2 linked regions of the Homo sapiens genome follow. The protein of the gene in region 1 purifies or fractionates together with the protein of each later gene. This does not show direct contact. Each region holds a gene or a part of one and is shown on either strand. Other genes may lie near its edges.

What was found. Proteins that work in one complex are often made in the same cells at the same time.
Region 2: the proteins of CRIP1 (region 1) and ATOX1 fractionate together in Homo sapiens (co-fractionation; one large-scale study listed by BioGRID). This does not show direct contact.

Annotation. Positions count from the first base shown.
Region 1 is NC_000014.9:105,485,342-105,489,092, forward strand, and holds CRIP1 (cysteine-rich protein 1), read left to right. Parts: upstream 1-1,544; 5' UTR 1,545-1,631; intron 1,632-1,857; 5' UTR 1,858-1,918; coding exon 1,919-1,958; intron 1,959-2,824; coding exon 2,825-2,919; intron 2,920-2,989; coding exon 2,990-3,047; intron 3,048-3,129; coding exon 3,130-3,170; 3' UTR 3,171-3,175; intron 3,176-3,321; 3' UTR 3,322-3,606; downstream 3,607-3,751. UniProt on the Homo sapiens protein: Seems to have a role in zinc absorption and may function as an intracellular zinc transport protein.
Region 2 is NC_000005.10:151,745,477-151,748,782, reverse strand, and holds part of ATOX1 (copper transport protein ATOX1), read left to right. Parts: intron 1-2,333; coding exon 2,334-2,458; 3' UTR 2,459-2,504; intron 2,505-3,306. UniProt on the Homo sapiens protein: Binds and deliver cytosolic copper to the copper ATPase proteins. May be important in cellular antioxidant defense.

The sequences.
Region 1 (3,751 bases):
CTTGGTGCCTCTGCCTCTCCCTCTGCTTGTCTGCAGGTTTGTCCCACGATGCCCCACACTCAGTGGAGATGGCAGGTGGGCCCAGACCTCAGAGTGGGTTTCAAGGCTCATGGGCTGGAGAGTGGGGGTTCCAAGTTTGCAGGACAGGAGCGCACCCCTACTCTGGAAACCTTATCTCTGAGGTCTCAGAATGGGGGATGAGGAGGGCTCCAATGGGCCCCTGTGGAATGTCCTATCAGACCCCAGGACTTAGCCCCAGTCGGGGGACAGAACTGTGGCCTTAGAGGGGCGCCAGGAGGAGGGCAAGCAGGATGTGGCCTTGGGCTGGGTGTGCTGGTGTGGGGCTCTCTGGAGTGTGGCCTCTGTGCCAGACGCCTGTGCCTTGGCCGTCCTACAGCCCTGCTGCCCCTGCCCTCTCCCCAAGCTGGGGACTGGTGGCAGACAGGGCAGGGCAGGCGGCTTCTCTTCCTCTAAGTGCAGGCCTCGAGGTGCCGACAGGGGTGCGGTAGGATTCAGGGAAAGTGAGGTTGGGATCACAGGTGCAGTTAGGGCTCAGGGCCCGACAGCGGTAGGCCAGCGGCTCCTGGGGCCCAGGAGGATGGTCTCCAGCGCCCCCAGCGGGGACAGGGCCAGCACAGGCCCAGTGGAGATCGAGGGGAGATAAGGACGCTGGTTAACATGGCTGACAGGAGGGATGGTGGGTGGGGAGGAAGGGCAGCACCGCCCTTGTGCTGTGGGAGCTCCCAGGGAGCTCCATGCAGCATGGAGGTGAAGGGCCTGCAGAGAGAGGGCTCCCCTGCTCAGTGACAGGAGAGGGGGCTGACAGTGACCTGGGCTCCCTTCCTGAGGCTGGCCAGTCAGCTAGAGGGCTGACCCCAAAGCCCGAGGCCAGCGCAGCCCCCTTGGCCCTCCTGAATCTGGGGGGCGGGTGAGGCGGGACAGACTCCGCCTGGCACCGGGACCATCCTCCGCCTCAACTTTGCAGCGTACTTGGACCGCTCTGGCCGCCCTGGGCGCTACCCGCAGAGATAAGGGCCCCTCCCTGCGCCCGGTCCGGGCATCTCCGAGCCGGCCTGGGGGTGGCTGAACTCTCTTTTGCCGGCCGAAACCCCAGCCCCCGCAGCCCCCGCAGCCGATCGGTCCTCAAGCTACAGCTCCCCTCTCTGGGAGTCCCCGCTTTTGAATTCCCCGGGGATGTTCCCGCTGCGGTCCGATGGACCTCCCAGAGCAGCGGAGGTCAGGGGAGCTAGCAGAGGCGGGGACGTCCCTTGGGAGTGAGGGGACTGACAGGGGCGGCCTCGTAACCCTGCGTGGGATGGAAGGTCAGAGTGGGTTCCTCGGTGGGGGGCAACAGCGGGGGCTCTCCGGCAATTGTCCCCGACCCTCCGTCCTGGGGAGGGCAGGATCAGCGCGCGGGCTGCTTTGCATCTCTTTGCATTTTAGTGATGTTTGGTCCAGTCCTGGCCCGGGCAGATCTGGGGTTCGGGCGGGTGCCGGTGGGGTAGGGCTGGGGGTGGGAGCGGCGTTTCCTGCTGCGGGTGAGCCTTTTGCCTCGGAACTGGACCCGGGAGACATCACAGCGCTGGGCTAGGGGCGCGGCTTGAACTCGCCTAAAGAGCTGCGCCCTCTCAGTAAGTCCCCATGGCCCCCTGCCCCCCCGCGCTCCGTCCTCAGTCAGGCCCGGGTCCTGCCTGAAGGCGGGGGTGGACCAGATGATCTTTCTTGGGCCCTGGGCCTAGATTCGAGGTCCCCAGGGTCCAAGTCCTGGGTTCAGAGGGCGGGGCGCGAGGGGCGGGGTCTCCAAGGGGCGGGGTCCCGGGGTCCCTGAAAGGCGCGGACCAGGCCGGATCCACCCAGTCTCGCGCCTGCAGCCCGTGCCGCCCCAGCCGCTGCCGCCTGCACCGGACCCGGAGCCGTCATGCCCAAGTGTCCCAAGTGCAACAAGGAGGTGTACTTCGGTGAGCGCGCCCACACCGGCCCCGCGAGGAGGCGCCGCCGACGGGGCGACGAGGCTGGGGACCGCTCAGGAGGACCGGGGGCGCTGGGTCCCTGGGGCGGCGCCCCAGCCTGAAAACGCCTCAGCCTGGCCCGCCGCCTGCCCCGGGATGAGGGTGGAGGCCCCTGCGTCCGAGGGCCCTGGCGATCTCTGCCTGCTAGTGGTCTTGCTGTGCTCGGCGGGCTACCTCTGGCTCTGAGCCTCCCCGTCTCTGGGTCCTACGGTCTCTGCCGTTTCCTCTCAGGCGCGCCCTGAGTGGGGGACCCGCAGGGCTGGAAGGAACGCGGGGCTGGGGCCGCGCCCCCCAGCGCTAAGTGGAAACAGACGCGGAAACCGACGCCCGGGGCGCGATCCCGGGCGCCCGCCTCCCTGCCCCGCGCCCGCGCGCCCCGAGGGGAGGGAGGAAGTGGGAAGTCACCCCTGTCCCCGCCGAGAAGGGCTGTCGCAGGCTCCACCCTTGCCACCGCAGAGGCCCGGGGCTGAAAGCAGGCAGCCAGGCCCAGGCCCTGCTGACCTAAGCCGCGACCCCTGACCCTCGGCCTCGCCCTCTAGCCCCACCCAGCCTTCAGGAGCAAGATTCCCGGCCGCACCCGAAAGTGCCCCGGGGACCAGCGACCCCGCGCTTTGTTTAGTTGTATTGGCTCTGGGGATTGGAGATGTTCCCCTCATGGAGGGTGCTGAGACCTTAGGGTGGGCTGCCAGGCTGGGCGGATGCGGGCTAAGTGCACAGGGCCTTGGGCAGAGCTGGCTGCAAGAGGCGGGTACGCCAGTGGTGGGTAGGCGCCGCGTCCTGCAGCGTCTCACCGGGGCCTGTCTGTGCCTCTGCAGCCGAGAGGGTGACCTCTCTGGGCAAGGACTGGCATCGGCCCTGCCTGAAGTGCGAGAAATGTGGGAAGACGCTGACCTCTGGGGGCCACGCTGAGGTAGGTGGGACCCACCCTGGTGGCAGGGGCCAGGGGTGATGGCACCCCCTCACGGCCCTTCTCTTTGCAGCACGAAGGCAAACCCTACTGCAACCACCCCTGCTACGCAGCCATGTTTGGGCCTAAAGGTATGCTCCCGTCATCCCCACCCCACCCCACCCCACAGCCTCCTCCACCCCAGCCTGTTGACTTTTTCCACCTTCTCTGCAGGCTTTGGGCGGGGCGGAGCCGAGAGCCACACTTTCAAGTAAACCAGGTAGGTAGGACCCCACCCCCTATCCTGCCTCCTGGTTCCACCCTCGGGATGGGGATGCCCCCTCCCAGGGAGGCCTGACCACTCGTGGGCCCCAAAGGAGGCCGTGGACGCTGCACTCACGTCTGTGCCTGTCTCTCTCTGCACAGGTGGTGGAGACCCCATCCTTGGCTGCTTGCAGGGCCACTGTCCAGGCAAATGCCAGGCCTTGTCCCCAGATGCCCAGGGCTCCCTTGTTGCCCCTAATGCTCTCAGTAAACCTGAACACTTGGAAAACCTGTGTGTGTACATGCGCGTGTGTGCTGGGGAGTGCCAAGGGAGCTGCAGTGGGGTCCTGGCAGCAGGCTCTGCCACCGGCGCCTGCTCTTCTGCTGCCCATTGCCCTCCCCAGGGGGCCGTTCCAGGGTCTCATAGGCGAGGGCTCCCTGTGCAGGGTGAGTCCAGGCCACCCTAGACAGCCCGCACCCAGCCCTGGCACTCTGAGTCCGCCTCGACAACTCCCAGATCCTCAGAAGTGCCTCTGAGCCCTCCTGGCCTTCTGGGAGTGGGGAAGGGGGGCTTTGCAGGCCACCAGCCAAA
Region 2 (3,306 bases), on another chromosome or scaffold:
TTCAAGTGATTCTCCTGCCCCAGCCTCCCGAGAAGCTGGGATTACAGGCACATGCCACACACTGAGCTAATTTTTGTATTTTTAGTAGAGATGGGGTTTCACCACGTTAGCCAGGCTGGTCTTGAACTTCTGACCTCAAGTGATCCACTCGCCTCAGCCTCCCAAAGTGCTGGGATTACAGACATGAGCCACCACGCCTGGCCAACCATATGATTTTTAAGGCCCCTTGCTGGAAGATCTGCCTTTAAGCTTCGGCAGGTTTCTGCCCATCTTTTCCTACTGTCCCTGCTTGGGTGGCCTCTTGAGAAGGGTCAGGAGGGTTTTTTGAGTTGCTTATGGCCCTAAAAGAACAGTGGTAGGGCTGAGGAATCACAGACTGATGGCATCCTTGAGCTGGAAAGGCCACAGGAGCTGGCCAGCCCTGACTCCTTCATGTACAGATGAGGTAGCTGAGGCCTGTGAGAAGCAGGACCCTCCTCCCACCGACTCCCTGCCCATGGTCACCCAGCAAGTCAATGGTGAGGCCAGGCCTAGAACCTATCAAGAGTTTTCCTTTCTTTTTGCACTCTTTTGTCAGAGTAAAACTCTGGGTCCTCCCATGTGCTGCTGGGGAGCTGTAAATTGGCATAGCCATTTAGGAGGGCGATTTTGCAATGTCTATTAAACATTCAAAATGTGCCAAATATCTGTTGCCCCACAATTTCCATTCTGTGAATTCATGGTATAACAATATTTTTATAAGTGTTTTAAGACAAGTTCAAATATGTTTACTATAACATTGTGATAGTGGTGAAAAATTAGAAGCATCCTCAATGACCTTTAACAGTGGATTAATTAAGTGGATGTGTGGTACGTCCACACTGTGGAAGATTGTAGCTTTTAAAAAAAGAATAGGGCCGGGCACTGTGGCTCACGCCTATAGTCCCAACACTTTGGGAGGCCAATGCAGGTGGATCACCTGAGATCAGGAATTCAAGACCAACCTGGCCAACATGGCGAAACCCCATCTCTACTAAAAATACAAAAATTAGCTCAGTGTGGTGGCTCATGCCTGTAATCCCAGCCACTCGGGAGGCTGGCTGAGGCAGAAGAATCGCTTGAACCCGGGAGTCAGGCTACAATGAGCTGAGATTGTGCCACTGCACTCCAGCCTGGGTGACACAGCGAGACTCTGTGTCAAAAAAAAAAAAAAAGAATGGACCGGGTGCAGTGGCTCACACCTGTAGTCCCAGCACTTTGGGAAGCCAAGGCAGGCGGATCGCTTGAGCCTAGAAGTTCAAGACCAGCCTGGGCAATATGCGAAACCCTGTCTCTACATAAAATACAAAACTTAACCAGGCATAGTGGCATGTGCCTGTAGTCACAACAACTTGGGAGGCTGAGAAGGGAGGATCACCTGAGCCCAGGTATTCAAGGATACAGTGATTTGTGATTGTGCCACTGCACTCCAGCCTGTATAACACAGTGAGACCCTGTCTCTAAATAAATAAATAAATAAAAATGAATAAATAAAGAGAAAAGTAAAATATTAGCAAGACCTGTTTATATAGTGTGATGCGATTTGGAGGAATTATTTTTCATTTGTCTATCTAGGACAAAGTCTAGATAGAAGCCAGACTGTTCACAGTGATCTCTAGGGGCAGGATCAGTAGGGGGCCTTACTGCTTCTACTTTTATTTAGAAATGTTTGCTTTTTTGAAAAAAAAAAAAAAAGTGTCTATATTACTTTTGCAATTAAAAAAAAAAGGTGGCTGGGCACGGTGGCTCATGCCTATACTCCCAGCACTTTGGGAGGCCAAGGCGGGCAGATCACTTGAGATTAGGAGTTTGAGACCAGCCTGGGCAACATGACAAAACCCTGTCTCTACTAAAAATACAAAAATTAACCAGGTGTGGTGGCATACGCCTGTAATCCCAGCTGCTCCAAAGGCTGAGGCATGACAATCACTTGAACCCAGGAGGTGGAGGTTGCAGTGAGCTGAGATCATGCCACTGCACTCCAGCCTGGGCAACAGAGTGCGTCTCTGTCTCAGAAAGCCCTAGTATAGAACAGAGATCAGCACATGGGCCAAATCCTGCTCACAGCCTGTTTTTGTATGTTCAGGAATAGAGTTATAAAAAAAATACACAGAATATACAACAGAGTCTATATGTGACCCACAATGCCTAAAACATTTGCTTTCTGGCCTGTTACAGAAGAAGTTTGCCGATCCCTGCTCTAGAGGAAAGGGCAAGGGTGGTTGTGAGTAGTAATTTAGAGCCTGAACTCTTTCTTGCTGTAACTGGGAGGGTCTGTGCTTCCTCTCCCCATACCCCATTTCCTCTTCCTGCAGGAGTTAAGTATGACATTGACCTGCCCAACAAGAAGGTCTGCATTGAATCTGAGCACAGCATGGACACTCTGCTTGCAACCCTGAAGAAAACAGGAAAGACTGTTTCCTACCTTGGCCTTGAGTAGCAGGGGCCTGGTCCCCACAGCCCACAGGATGGACCAAAGGGGGCAGGTGGGTAAGGCCCCAGCACTTGCTGAACAAACCTACAGCTCACACCTCTCATCAGAGCGAACACCTTGGCCTTTGAGAGCTTGAGTGGAGCGGGAGAGCCCTCTGGGTTCTTTTCAATCCACTGTCCACCTTCTTTGGAGTGGTTACAAATATTTTATTATTGTCTAATGCAAATCACAAGTTCAGGGAATTCTTACAGACCCTGTGAGTGGACAGAGCACTGTGTAATGTCTCCCAGAGTCCTCTTTCAGACTTGAGGGTTGCAGTTCATGGTTAGCAGGGTTTAAGTTTACAGTATGTGACCCTAAGCAGTGCACCTTTGACTTCTTTATTTGTTCATTGGTTTGAGACAGTGTTTCACTATATGGCCCAGGCTGGAGGGTAGTAACTCTTCATAGGTGTGATCATAGTGCACTATAGCCTTTAACTCCTGGGCTCAAGTGATGCTCCTGCCTCAGCCTTCTAAGTAACTGGAACTATAGGCACCTATCACCACACATGGCTCTGGCTTTGATAAACTGACTATCTCATCAGAGTTGACACTTGTGCCTTGGGCCTTGTTCTCCTGTGCCCTGACCAAGTGAGTTAATTCAGACTGTGCCGCTCTCTCTACTTGAAACTGTTGTCAGCTTCCTGAGCATGCCCTCTGTCCAGACTGGTACAAAAACAATAGCATGTTTGAGCTAGATGTTCCCTTCACTTTTATGTAATCCAGTGATGCAGTAAGGGGCACTGTGCCAGCACTCTTCGCTCTGGAACCAGGCAGACCTTACTCATTGATCCAGCCACAGTCTCAGCAGGG